Regions from separate parts of the Homo sapiens genome. Here regions 2, 3 and 4 are each linked to region 1. The links come from fine-mapping of genetic effects on gene expression. A gene starts in region 1. Each other region holds a variant in brackets. All regions are shown on one strand. Distances are between the middles of the regions.

Region 1 (2,747 bases):
GCTCTTCTTAGGTGATCTGGGAGCTCCTCCCTGCCTTCCTTATTTATTATCTCCAACTATGATTTTTCCCCGACTTGTATATCTAACTTCTTGACAACTTCATTTGACTTGTTAATAGACTTATCAAACTTAATATGTTCAAAAGAGAACTTTCGATATTCCTTTCTAAACTGTTTTCCCGTAGGGAGTTAACCTTGGTTCCTCCCTCTCCTACACACTTCACATCCAATTCCCCAGCAAGTCCTGCAAGCACTACCTCCCAAATATATGCTGAATGGAATTCTCTCCATTTCCACTGTGACTGAGGGCCTTTTCTTTTTTCTTAAGACGGAGTCTCACTCCGTTGCCCAGGCTGGAGTGAAGTGGCGCGATCTTGGCTCACTGCAACCTCCACCTCCCGGGTTCAAGCGATTCTCCTGAGTAGCAGAGATTACAGGCGCGTGCCACTACGCCCAGCTGATTTTTGTATTTTTAGTAGAGATGGGGTTTCACCATGTTGGCCAGGATGATCTCGATCTCCTGACCTCGTGATCCGCCCGCCTAGGCCTCCCAAAGTACTGGGTTTATAGGCGTGAGCCACCGCGCCCGGCCGGCCCTTTCAACACTATCTTCACCTCTCCTTTGTCTTACAGTGCAACAGTCTCCTAACAGGTCTAACTACTTCCACCCTTCTCTATCCAGCAGGCAGAGCGGATTTTTAAAAATGTAAATCAGGTCAGGTCACTTCCCTTCTTAAAACCCTTAAGGTACACATTAGCCAAACCCCTGCCTTGGGCTAAAAGGCGCTGCTACAGTCATGCCACTTCCCCAACTACATCACAGGGCACTCCGGCCCTGGCTCTGTTTGCTTCAGCCACATGGCCTTCTGGCTGTTTCCAACCTAAAAGTCCTTCTCATTGGCTCTTCTCTCCACCCAGAAAACCCATTGTCTCGGATCCCCGCAAAACCGTGGCCTCCTTTGAACGACCTTACCCGATTTCGAGGGGCCCTCCCCCCATCTTCTGTCACCTCATCCGGTCTTTGGGGGGCATTTCTCACTTGCTGATACCTTCTTTATTGATTTACTTAACTCTCTCCTGCACACGAATGGAAGGTAACGGAGCAACACCCTACTCTCAGGTTTGAAGAGCAAGAGAATTACGAAGCTGGCTCTCACGGTCCTAGGGAGTCTCCGTTCCTGTACGGGACCTGGTGTGGGTCAACGTTCCCCAGCCAGACACCTCTCGCCCCCGGACCGGCCCCTACCATCTCCCATTTACATTCGGGGGTCCAAAAGATTCACAGCCTCCGAGGGGGCCCCACGCCGGCACCTGAGCGTCCCCACACCAGGCCTCCCCTCTTGGACGCGCGAGCCACTTCCGTGAGGCAGGTCCCCGAGGCCGGTGGCGATGACACCGAGCCGCCCCCGCGAAGCTGGGGTCACACAGGCCCGTCTCCCGGCAACGCCGCAGCCCAACCTCCAAACCATCCCTGCCCGTGGGGAGCCAACCCCTTCCCCGCCAGTCTCCCGCGCCTGGAGTCGGCGCCTCCATCCCCTACACTCACTCTGCGTCAGTCCTGCCTTCCCCCACCCACAGAAGCGCGCAGCCCGCGGCGGGCTGGGAGGAGGCGGCGCCAGGAGCCCAGCAGAGCCGTGGCCGACCGAGCACAGGCTGGTCCAGTAGGCCAGGCCGGACCAAACCACCGGGCCCACCTCTGTGGGAGCACCAGTTCCAGGTCTGGGGGAGTCTCGACTGACTGACTCTACCCATCTCCCGCCGCATCCAACAATAAGCTGAGCTCCTCCTCCCCCTATTTTTCCTTTACGCTTTCATTATCCTCCCCGCTCCATTCCCGTAAAACAAGAAAAAAAAATGGTCCAGCCCAGCTCCCTCCGGGTTGCTAGGTCTTTGCCCTTACTTGGCGACGGCTTCGTACGTCTTTATGTGCGTCGTGACGCAATCTTCCACTCGTTCCCTCCTTGCCCCTCTCCCATTCTCCCTCCTGGAGCTGGCGGCCGGCGGGGTTACCGGAAGTGATGATGCAGGAGGCGATGGAGGGGGCGGGGCTTCGGGGCGGCCGCCGCCGGTGGGCCGCAGATGAAGAGGAGGCGGTGGCAGTGGTGGAAGAAGAGGCGGCGGCGGCGGGGGTAGGGAGCCTGGAAACGCGAGCGGGGATGGTAGGTGGTTTGGACCCGCCGGGCCGCCGTCGTTTCCAGAAAGGGTTTGACTGGAGGAACCTCTGGAGCAGCTGTGAGTTTTGGGGAGGGGGGGAGTTGAGGAAAAGGCGGGGGGGCATTGAGAGATGAAGGGGCGGGGGTTGGGTACCTTCGAGAAAGGGGGGTGGAAAGGGAGGAGTGGAAGTCAGCGCGTTGTCTGGAGTGGTACCTCTGAAAGAAGAGGCTGTGAGGGGAGCCTGTGGCGTGTCAGCCGCAGGGCTCAGAAAACTTACCTACTGTCCCTGCCTCCCCACCGCCAGCACCCCTCAACCCAGGGCCTGGGGATATGGGGTTGGAGCTGCCCTGGAGGGGGTGCAGACTCTGGTCCTCTGTCCTGGGTGAGCGCTGTGAGGTAGGAGCCCTAGGGGGAGGTGGTGGGTGAATCTCCCAGCTCCCTCCGCCCTCATTTCCCTCCCCACCCCCATCGTTCTCTTTAATCATTAACAGCCCTGGAATTAAGGGGCTCAGACCTGAAGGCCTTTTTGTGCACCTTTGCTATAAACGATAACCATCTGTGTCCGAGGTAATGAGGCTGGAGGCTTTGCCTGTA
Region 2 (2,500 bases), 70 kb before region 1:
TGATAATGGGCCAGCCATGATGGGTCATGCCTTTAATCCCAGTGCTTTGGGAGGCTGAGGCAGGAGGATGGCTTGAGGCAAGGAGGAATTTCAGACCAGCCCAGGTAACAATAGTGAAAACTCTTCTCTGCAAAAAACTAAAAAGAAAAAAATTGGTCAGGTGCAGTGGAGCACACCTGCGGTCTTAGCTACTCAGCAGCCTGAGACAGGAGGATCACTTCATTCCAGGAGCTGCAGTGAGCTATGATCCCACCACTGCACTCTAGCCTGGACAACGGAGTAAGATCTTATCTCAAAAAAAAAAAAAGAGAGAAAAAAAAATCAGGAGATTTCAAGTAACAATTCTGAATTTTCAGCTTTTCTTTGGAAAACATCGGGCAACCTGGCAACATCGGAGCTGCCCTCCCGGGTTGCACTCATCTTCGGTATTAAATAGATGCTGCCCCTGTGTGTTCCAATTCACCAAAGTCCCAGCCCCACCCACTCGCACTCACTGGCCTGGCCCCTGAGGCGCATGAATTGGCAACTCTTTAATGTTTCTGTGCTAGAATCAGGTACATCAGGGCTCAATTTTTGCTCTGTCCTTTCCTAGCTTCAGTTTCTTCATCTACAAAATGGGGGTACTAAGAGGAAAACATGTAACATTTGTAGCCTGTGCCAGAGCGTAAGGGTCTATGTTAGTGATTCTTCAAAACTGCTGTACTTTGCTCTATACCAAGGGGACTTGCCTATGTGACCAAGGCTAGCCCCTTTCCACATGTGGGTCGCAGAGGGAAGGAAAACAGCACAGCCAAGATTCTGCTCTGTAATGTCAGGCCAAACAGCGACTTGTTGGAGCAGGAGGGAGGTGAGTGATCGCACAAGGTTTGTAAGGCGGTGACCCAGGACGCCCCACTACACCCACTCCCAGGCAATAACTGCCACATCAGGTTTCGGTGCAAAGGGTGAGGCTCAAGTCTCTGCCATCCCATCCCTCTTCCAGGGAGTGACATCCTGGGATGAGTCAGGAAGTGGAAGAAACTACCCAGGGAGGAGGAGAAACCGGTGTCTGATTGTGCAGCTTTCCTGAGGCTTTTTTGTGGACCGGAATCCCTTCCTGGACCTTTCAGGGCTGTGGCCCTCCTGCCCAG[G/C]AGAAGTTGCTAATTTTCTCTAATCTCCTCACACTCCCAGAAATGACACAAGATGGAATAGTGCCCAGTAGGGTACCGAATGCACAGTAGGAATGCAAATGAAATCCATATTAGGAGTTTCTGTTTGATCCTAATTTGCCTTTAAGAAACATAAATTTTAGTGTTTCTTTATATGGAGACAAAGTTAGTTCCCTGCTCTTTACCAAAAAAGAAAAAAAAAAAGTGATTTGTTAGAAACTCAGAAGTACGGCTGAGCACAGAGGCTCATGCTTGTAATCCCAGCACTTTGGGAGGCCGAGGCGGGCGGATCACTTGAGGTCAGGAGTTCGAGACCAGCCTGGCCAACATGGTGAAACCCCATCTATACTAAAAATACAAAAATTAGTCAGACCTGGTGGTAGGCACCTGTAGTCCCAGCTACTCGGGAGCCTGAAGTGCGAGAATCACTTGAACCCGGGAAGCAGAGGTTGCAGTGAGCCGAGATAGCACCGCTGCTACAGTCCAGCCTGGATGATAGAGCGAGACTCTGTCTCAAAAAAAAAAAAAAAAAAAGAATAGAGAAAAGAAAAGAAATCCATACTGGGAAGACAAAGACTGGAAGAGCAAGAATCAGGTCACCAACTCTTGATTCACAAGCGCAATGGTTTGCTTACATTGGTCAATTCTTTCCAATTATTTCTTTCCCCCCTAATGAGGATGATCAATGATACCAAAATTACTGTGATCTGATTACATTTCGTCACACTGCACTGAACTCCATACCTCTCAAACAATCCGATTGCTCTTTTCATGCTAAGACTCAGGGGCAATTTTAAATTATGTTTTTAGCATAGAAACAAATGTGGTAACAATGCCTATGTGAGATTTTTGTTTTGTTTTTGTTTTTAGACAGAGTTTCAATTTCACTCTTGTCGGCCAGGCTGGAGTGCAATGGCAAAATCTCAGCTCACTGCAACCTCCGCCTCCCCAGTTCAGGCAATTCTTCTACCTCAGCCTCCTGAGTAGCTGAGATTACAAGCGCCCACCACCACGCCTGGCTAATTTTTGTATTTTTAGTAGAGACAGGGTTTTGCCATGTTGGCCAGACTGGTCTGGAACTCCTGACCTCAAGTGATCCACCACGTTGGCCTCCCAAAGTGCTGGGATTACAGGCATGAGCTACTGTGCCTGGCCAAAAAAGCAAATAAGTTGAATGCTCAGATGTTCGGGACATCCAGACCACAGCCCCAAAAGGCCATGCATGTGTTCCGGCTGCTGGTTAACGGTCAGAGCCATTGTCCAGCTCCAGCGGCAGGCACCATGTTAAAGGGTATCTGGAAGAGGAAGCACCTCTTCCTTCTTCCTCATGTAGGAGTGGAGCTCTGCTTCGC
Region 3 (2,747 bases), 58 kb after region 1:
GCTGTTCTTTGAAGGTTTCACTCACTCCAGACAGATATATAGAGCCTTGGTTTTCAGAATCTCCTTCCAGCTCATTCACGAGGGTGTCACAATCAAGCGTGAGCTCTGTCACAGGCCTCTGCACCTAACCAAGGAAAGTTGGTGTTAGTGGTAGAAAATCAATTTAATCCTCAGGCCTATTGGATACTAGCAAGTTGTTGCCATTACTAATAACTTCATTTTTCAGTTTCCTAAAATTTTCCGTTTCTTTTCTTTTCTGTAAAAGGAAACTAAAGATAATGGCCTCACAGAATTATGTTAGAGACTTAATTGATAAATACATATTTTCATGTAAACATATTCTCTTCAGTTTCCTGCCTCCCACCCTTAATGAAATTCTGTTTATGTGCACAAGAAACTTCAAAATACCACCATTTGATCTCCCTGAAAGGTGAAGAAAAGGGTAACCACAAAGAACCAACCAGAATAAACCACAGGGGACTTAAGTAGTAACAAAGAATGCAAGGAAGACCCAAATCTAGCCCAGGATGATTTCTGACACAAATGAAAGCCGTTATGTCTTCAATCACTGCCAGTAGGAGAATGTTAGACTTGGCTGAAGACTTTCCATAACAAAGTCTTGTGCGTGGGCCTCTTGAGAGTGTTTCCTATATGTCCTGGGGCACTATAAATACAGGCTGTGGTAGGCCAGACCCAAGCAAAGGGGGCTTTCTCTTGTCACCCTACCTTGATGCAGATACCATCTACCAGAATACCATCCAAGGATTCTATGGCCAGCTGGGCAGCTTCTAGGACTTCATACTGTATACAGAGATGAGGCTGCAGAAAGACCAAGATTTCCTCATCATTGCTTTCCAGCTCAAACTGCTAAAGAAGGGGTTGGGGAAAGGATTCAAACTACAGTGGCCAAAGCCACCAGAATGGATGCCTTTACTGTGCTGGGCTACACAAGTATTGATTGTAAACTGTCAACTTTAAATGGGATCATCAAAGTTCAGAAACTAGCTTTCAGACAACAAATAACTTTGTCATTTAAAATGGAACTACCCAACAGGCTTTTCATAATATTTATTATGCATCACTAAAGTCATCACTGCAAGTCACGGGCAGAGATTCCCATTTGTCTTTTGGCTTAACTTTATAAGCTTGGGAAGGATAAGTTCTTCCACTGGATAGGCTACATCTTCAAATGGTCTGCTTTTCTGTTTGTTAACTCGGAGTAACTAAATCTTTGTGATTATCTGAGCCATAGCATCAATATGGAGATAAAAGCCTTCCCATAGAAAAGTTTCATGACACTGGATTTGGCAATGGTTTCTTGAATATGACATCAAAGGCAGGCAACAAAATTAAAAATAGACAAATTAGACTTCATAAAAATTAAAACCTTTTGTATATCAAAGGACACTAACAGCAGTGTCAAAAAG[C/T]AACCCACAGAATGGAGAAATAGTTGCAATCACATAGCTAATAAAAGATTAATATCCAGAATGTACAGAGAAATCCTACAATTCAACAATAAAAAAGCCAAACAACCTGATTTAAAAATGGGCAAACACTGCAGAGTAGCTGGAACTGAAAAAAATAAATAAGAAAAAAAGGGCAAACAAGTGAATAGACTTTGCTGTAAAAGATGTACAAATTGCCTGCGACACTCAACATCACTAATCATTAGGGAAACGCAAATCAAACCCAAATGAGATACCATTTCACATCCATTAGGATGGCTACTATTAAATAAAATAGAAAACAAGTGTCAGTGAAGATGTAGATAAGTTGGAACCTTTGTTCTTTGCTGGTAGGAATGTAAAATGGTATAGCCACTGTGGAAAACAGTATAATGGTTCCTCAAAAAATTAAACATAGAATTACTATTTGATCCATCAATTCCACTTCTGGGTATACACCCAGAAGAACTGAAAGCAGGGACTTGAACAGATATGTGTACAACCATGTTCATAGCAGCATTATTCATGATAGTCAAAGGTAGAAACAACCCAGGGTCAGGCACAGTGGCTCACGCCTGTAATCCAAGAACTTTGGGAGGCCAAGGTGGGTGGATCTCTTGAGTCCAGGAGTTCAAGATCAGCCTGGGCAACATAGAGAGACCCTGTCTTACAAAAAATTAGCCAGGCGTGCATGCCTGTGGTCCCAGCAGGAGGCTGAGGTGGGAGGATTGCTCGAGCCCAGGAGGTTGAGGCTGTAGTTAGTTGTGATCACGCCACTGAACTCCAGCCTGGGTGAGCAAGACCCTATCTCAAAAAAAAAAAAAACAAACAAAACAAAGGGTAGAAACAAGAAACAACCCAAATGTCCATCAACAAATGGATAAACAAAATGTGGTATATACATGAAATGGAATATTATTTTGCCTTGAAAATGAAATTCTAATACATGCTACAACATGAATGAACCTTGAAGACATGCTAAATGAAATAAACCAGACACAAAAGGACAAATATTGTATGATTCCACTTATGTGAGGTACGTACACAGAGTAGTCAAATTCATAAAGACAGAAAGTAAAACAATGATTACCAGGGGCTGGGGGGAGGGGTAATAGGAAATTATTGCTTAATAGGAAATTTCAGTTCGGGATGATGAAAAAGTTCTAGAGATGGATGGTGATGATAGCTGCACAATATCAACATACTGAATGCCACTTAAAAATGGTTAAAAAGGTACATTTTATTTTATATGTATTTTACCCGCCACCCCCGCAACCAAAAAAAGGGGCCAAGAGAAAGGAA
Region 4 (2,747 bases), 23 kb before region 1:
ATGCCTGTAATCCCAGCTACTCGAGCGGCTGAGGCAGGAGAATTGCTTGAACCCAAGAGGCAGAGGTTGCGGTGAGCTGAGATTGCACCATTGCATTCCAGCCTGGGCAATGTGAGCAAAACTCCGTTTCAAAAAAAAAAATTTTATATATATACATATACTATTACTCCACTGATACAGCATCATATTTGTTCCCTACGTTATTGCCAAACCCTGTGATAAGTTACCTTGAGTGAGTGTGAAAACGTGTGCTCTTCCTCATAGGAGTAGGTTCCAGCTATTTCTTCTGAGGGTCAGGAGTCCATTTTGAAAAAGAATAGACAGACAAAAATTGATAGTGCTTTGTCTTTATTTCTGATGCCCATCTTCTTCAGAGGTTAAGAAGAAATGACACTGATGTACAAATGACTCACCAAGGGACTCTCACCTGACTCTACCCTTGCAGGGGTGGAATAAATCCCTTCTATTTTCAAGTCTATTTGTCCCATTTCTGTTTAGACATAATTTGAAAGCCAGCTTGGACCTTGTACTTTTCAATTATGTTAACGTAAAATACTCGTAACGAATGTAGTATGAGTTTAAAGTGAGCTTTTCAGATCCTATAAGTGCATCCTAAGTAATGACAGGCTTTAAGATAAGGAATATATGCATTTTGTTAAGGCAGAAATCTCATAAAATTTCATGAAAAACCATGGTCAATCCAATGATGCACTTTTTAAGACAAGTTTGTCTGGAAACTGGAAGGGTCAAAAGACAACAAAAAAGCACACACCAAAAAACCTCACTTTAAGCAAATCTATAACTTGAAAAAAAAAAAGCCTAAGAATATTCTGAGAGTGGTACATAGTTTTATAGTAGCCACAGTAACTTCCAGTGACTGGCAAATTTCTTTGCATCAGCTGGCATGTGTGGTGAATGGAATTCCCATGAACAGCTCTTACATCCTTCCGCTTTCCTTCTACAGGCCTCGGTCTTGTTTCCAAAGGTGACTGCAGTGAGGATGTAAGGTCCATGACCTCTAGGGATAATGCCATCCACTCAGGAAGAAAGATGCTGAGAAACTCTAGGGATATCTAAGTTTACATCACAGGGGGAGAATCAATTGTGGAGGTTTTAAGAAGACATTTGAATTTTTGCCCCTAATCAAGAAGTGTTTTGCCATCTGGTTTACATTCAATAACTAGTTGGCTCATCATTTGCAGAAATAAACTTTCCTCTAGATTAGGAAACTTCATCATGAGATCTGAGATATACTGGTTTGGAAAGTTTCCTCAGTTTCTCTTGGCTTCGAAGTCCC[C/T]GGCCTCGGAGTGGGGTAAGGCCCATTGGAGGCAGATGAATCTGAATAAGAACAATAATATGAAGAATCATATTCATCATCATTGCAGCAGCTCATATTCACTGAGGATCTACTCAGAAAGTACCATATTCTCTGCTAAGTGCTGTATCTACATTGATTCATTAATCTTTACACAAGTTAATCCTACAACAACCTCATAAGGGATTATTATTCTAATATTTACAGATGAGGAAATGAAACCTCAGAGAAGTTAAAAAACTTGCTTAAGGTTATACATTAAGAAGGGAAGCCAGGATTTGAACCCAGATCTGTCAGATTCCAGAGCCTGTGCTCTTTGCTATATCGCCTGCATAGAGGAGAAAAAACGAGCATGGATCACATAGCAAGTTGAGAATCCAAAGAAGGGGAGAAAAGTGTGTGTATATAAAGATGTTCTGTGCATAGTAGAAAACTGGGATCAAACTAACTGCCTAGCAAGAGAGGGGCTGGTTAAATTATGGCTGGGATGGTTAATTTTTCTTTCTTTCTTTTTTTTTTTTTTTGAGACACAGTTTCACTCTGTCACCCAGGCTGGAGTGCAGTGGCATGATCTCAGTTCACTGCAACCTCGGCCTCCCAGGTTCAAGTGATTCTCTGTCTCAGCCTCCCGAGTAGCTGGGATTATAGGTGCTCGCCACCACGCCCGGCTAATTTTTGTATTTTTAATAGATATGGGGTTTTGCCATGTTAGCCAGGCTGGTCTCGAATTCCTGACCTCAAGTGATCCACCTGCCTTGGCCTCCCATAGTGCTGGGATTACAGGCATGAGCCACCGTGCCTGGCCTAGGATGCTTAATTTTTGTGTCAATCTGATTGGCAATGGGTGCCCAGATTAAACATCATTTCTAGGTGTATCTGTGAGGGTGTTTCTGGATGAGATTAGCATTTGAATCAGTGGACTTAGTAAAGCACATGGCCCTCCCCAGTGTGAATGGGCATCATCCAATCCATGGAGGGCCTGAATAGAACAAACAGGCAGAAGAAGGGGAAGCGGCTCCTTTTGCTTCCTGCCTGTTTGAGCTGGGACACCTCATCTTCTCTGGGCCTCAGACTGGGGATTTCTACCATTGGCCCCTTGGGTTCTCAGGCCTGTGGACTCAAACTGAGTAATACCACCAGCTTTCTTCTGGGTCTCCAGCTTGCAGACGGCAAATCCTAGGACTTCTCAGCCTCTATAATCACATGCACCAATTCCTTATAATAAATCTCCTTTCAGCCGGGCACAGTGGCTCACGCCTGTAATCCCAGCACTTTGGGAAGCTGAGGTGGGCGGATCACCAAGTCAGGAGTTTGAGACCAGCCTGGCCAACATAGTGAAACCCTATATCTACTAAAAGTACAAAAAATTAGCTGGCATGGTGGCGGGGGCCTGTAATCCCAGCTACTTGGGAGGGTGAGGCAGGAGAATCGC

Evidence for each region. PIP is the estimated chance that this variant, and not a neighbour inherited with it, causes the effect.
Region 2: its variant is fine-mapped to the expression of LYRM1 in whole blood (INTERVAL, PIP above 0.99).
Region 3: its variant is fine-mapped to the expression of LYRM1 in whole blood (TOPMed, PIP above 0.99).
Region 4: its variant is fine-mapped to the expression of LYRM1 in whole blood (TOPMed, PIP above 0.99).

Annotation. Positions count from the first base shown.
Region 1 is chr16:20,899,688-20,902,434 of GRCh38, reverse strand. It overlaps LYRM1 (LYR motif containing 1), which reads right to left and starts at 1,664. Exons shown (of 4, transcript NM_001128302.3): 1 at 1,546-1,664. DCUN1D3 (defective in cullin neddylation 1 domain containing 3) reads left to right here and starts at 2,077. Exons shown (of 3, transcript NM_173475.4): 1 at 2,077-2,231. RefSeq lists enhancers at 687-1,472, 1,473-2,258, 2,468-2,517.
Region 2 is chr16:20,970,046-20,972,545 of GRCh38, reverse strand. All of the region lies in intron 51 of DNAH3 (dynein axonemal heavy chain 3), which reads left to right. Among named protein-coding and RNA genes, the nearest start is that of LYRM1, 71 kb to the right of the region's middle. RefSeq lists an enhancer at 325-1,524. The variant G/C (reference allele first, on the strand shown) is at 1,131.
Region 3 is chr16:20,842,006-20,844,752 of GRCh38, reverse strand. It overlaps REXO5 (RNA exonuclease 5), which reads right to left. Exons shown (of 20, transcript NM_030941.3): 16 at 727-819; 17 at 1-124. Among named protein-coding and RNA genes, the nearest start is that of REXO5, 37 kb to the right of the region's middle. The variant C/T (reference allele first, on the strand shown) is at 1,428.
Region 4 is chr16:20,922,591-20,925,337 of GRCh38, reverse strand. It overlaps LYRM1 (LYR motif containing 1), which reads right to left. Exons shown (of 4, transcript NM_001128302.3): 4 at 332-1,338. The coding sequence ends at 1,222. Among named protein-coding and RNA genes, the nearest start is that of LYRM1, 23 kb to the right of the region's middle. The variant C/T (reference allele first, on the strand shown) is at 1,298.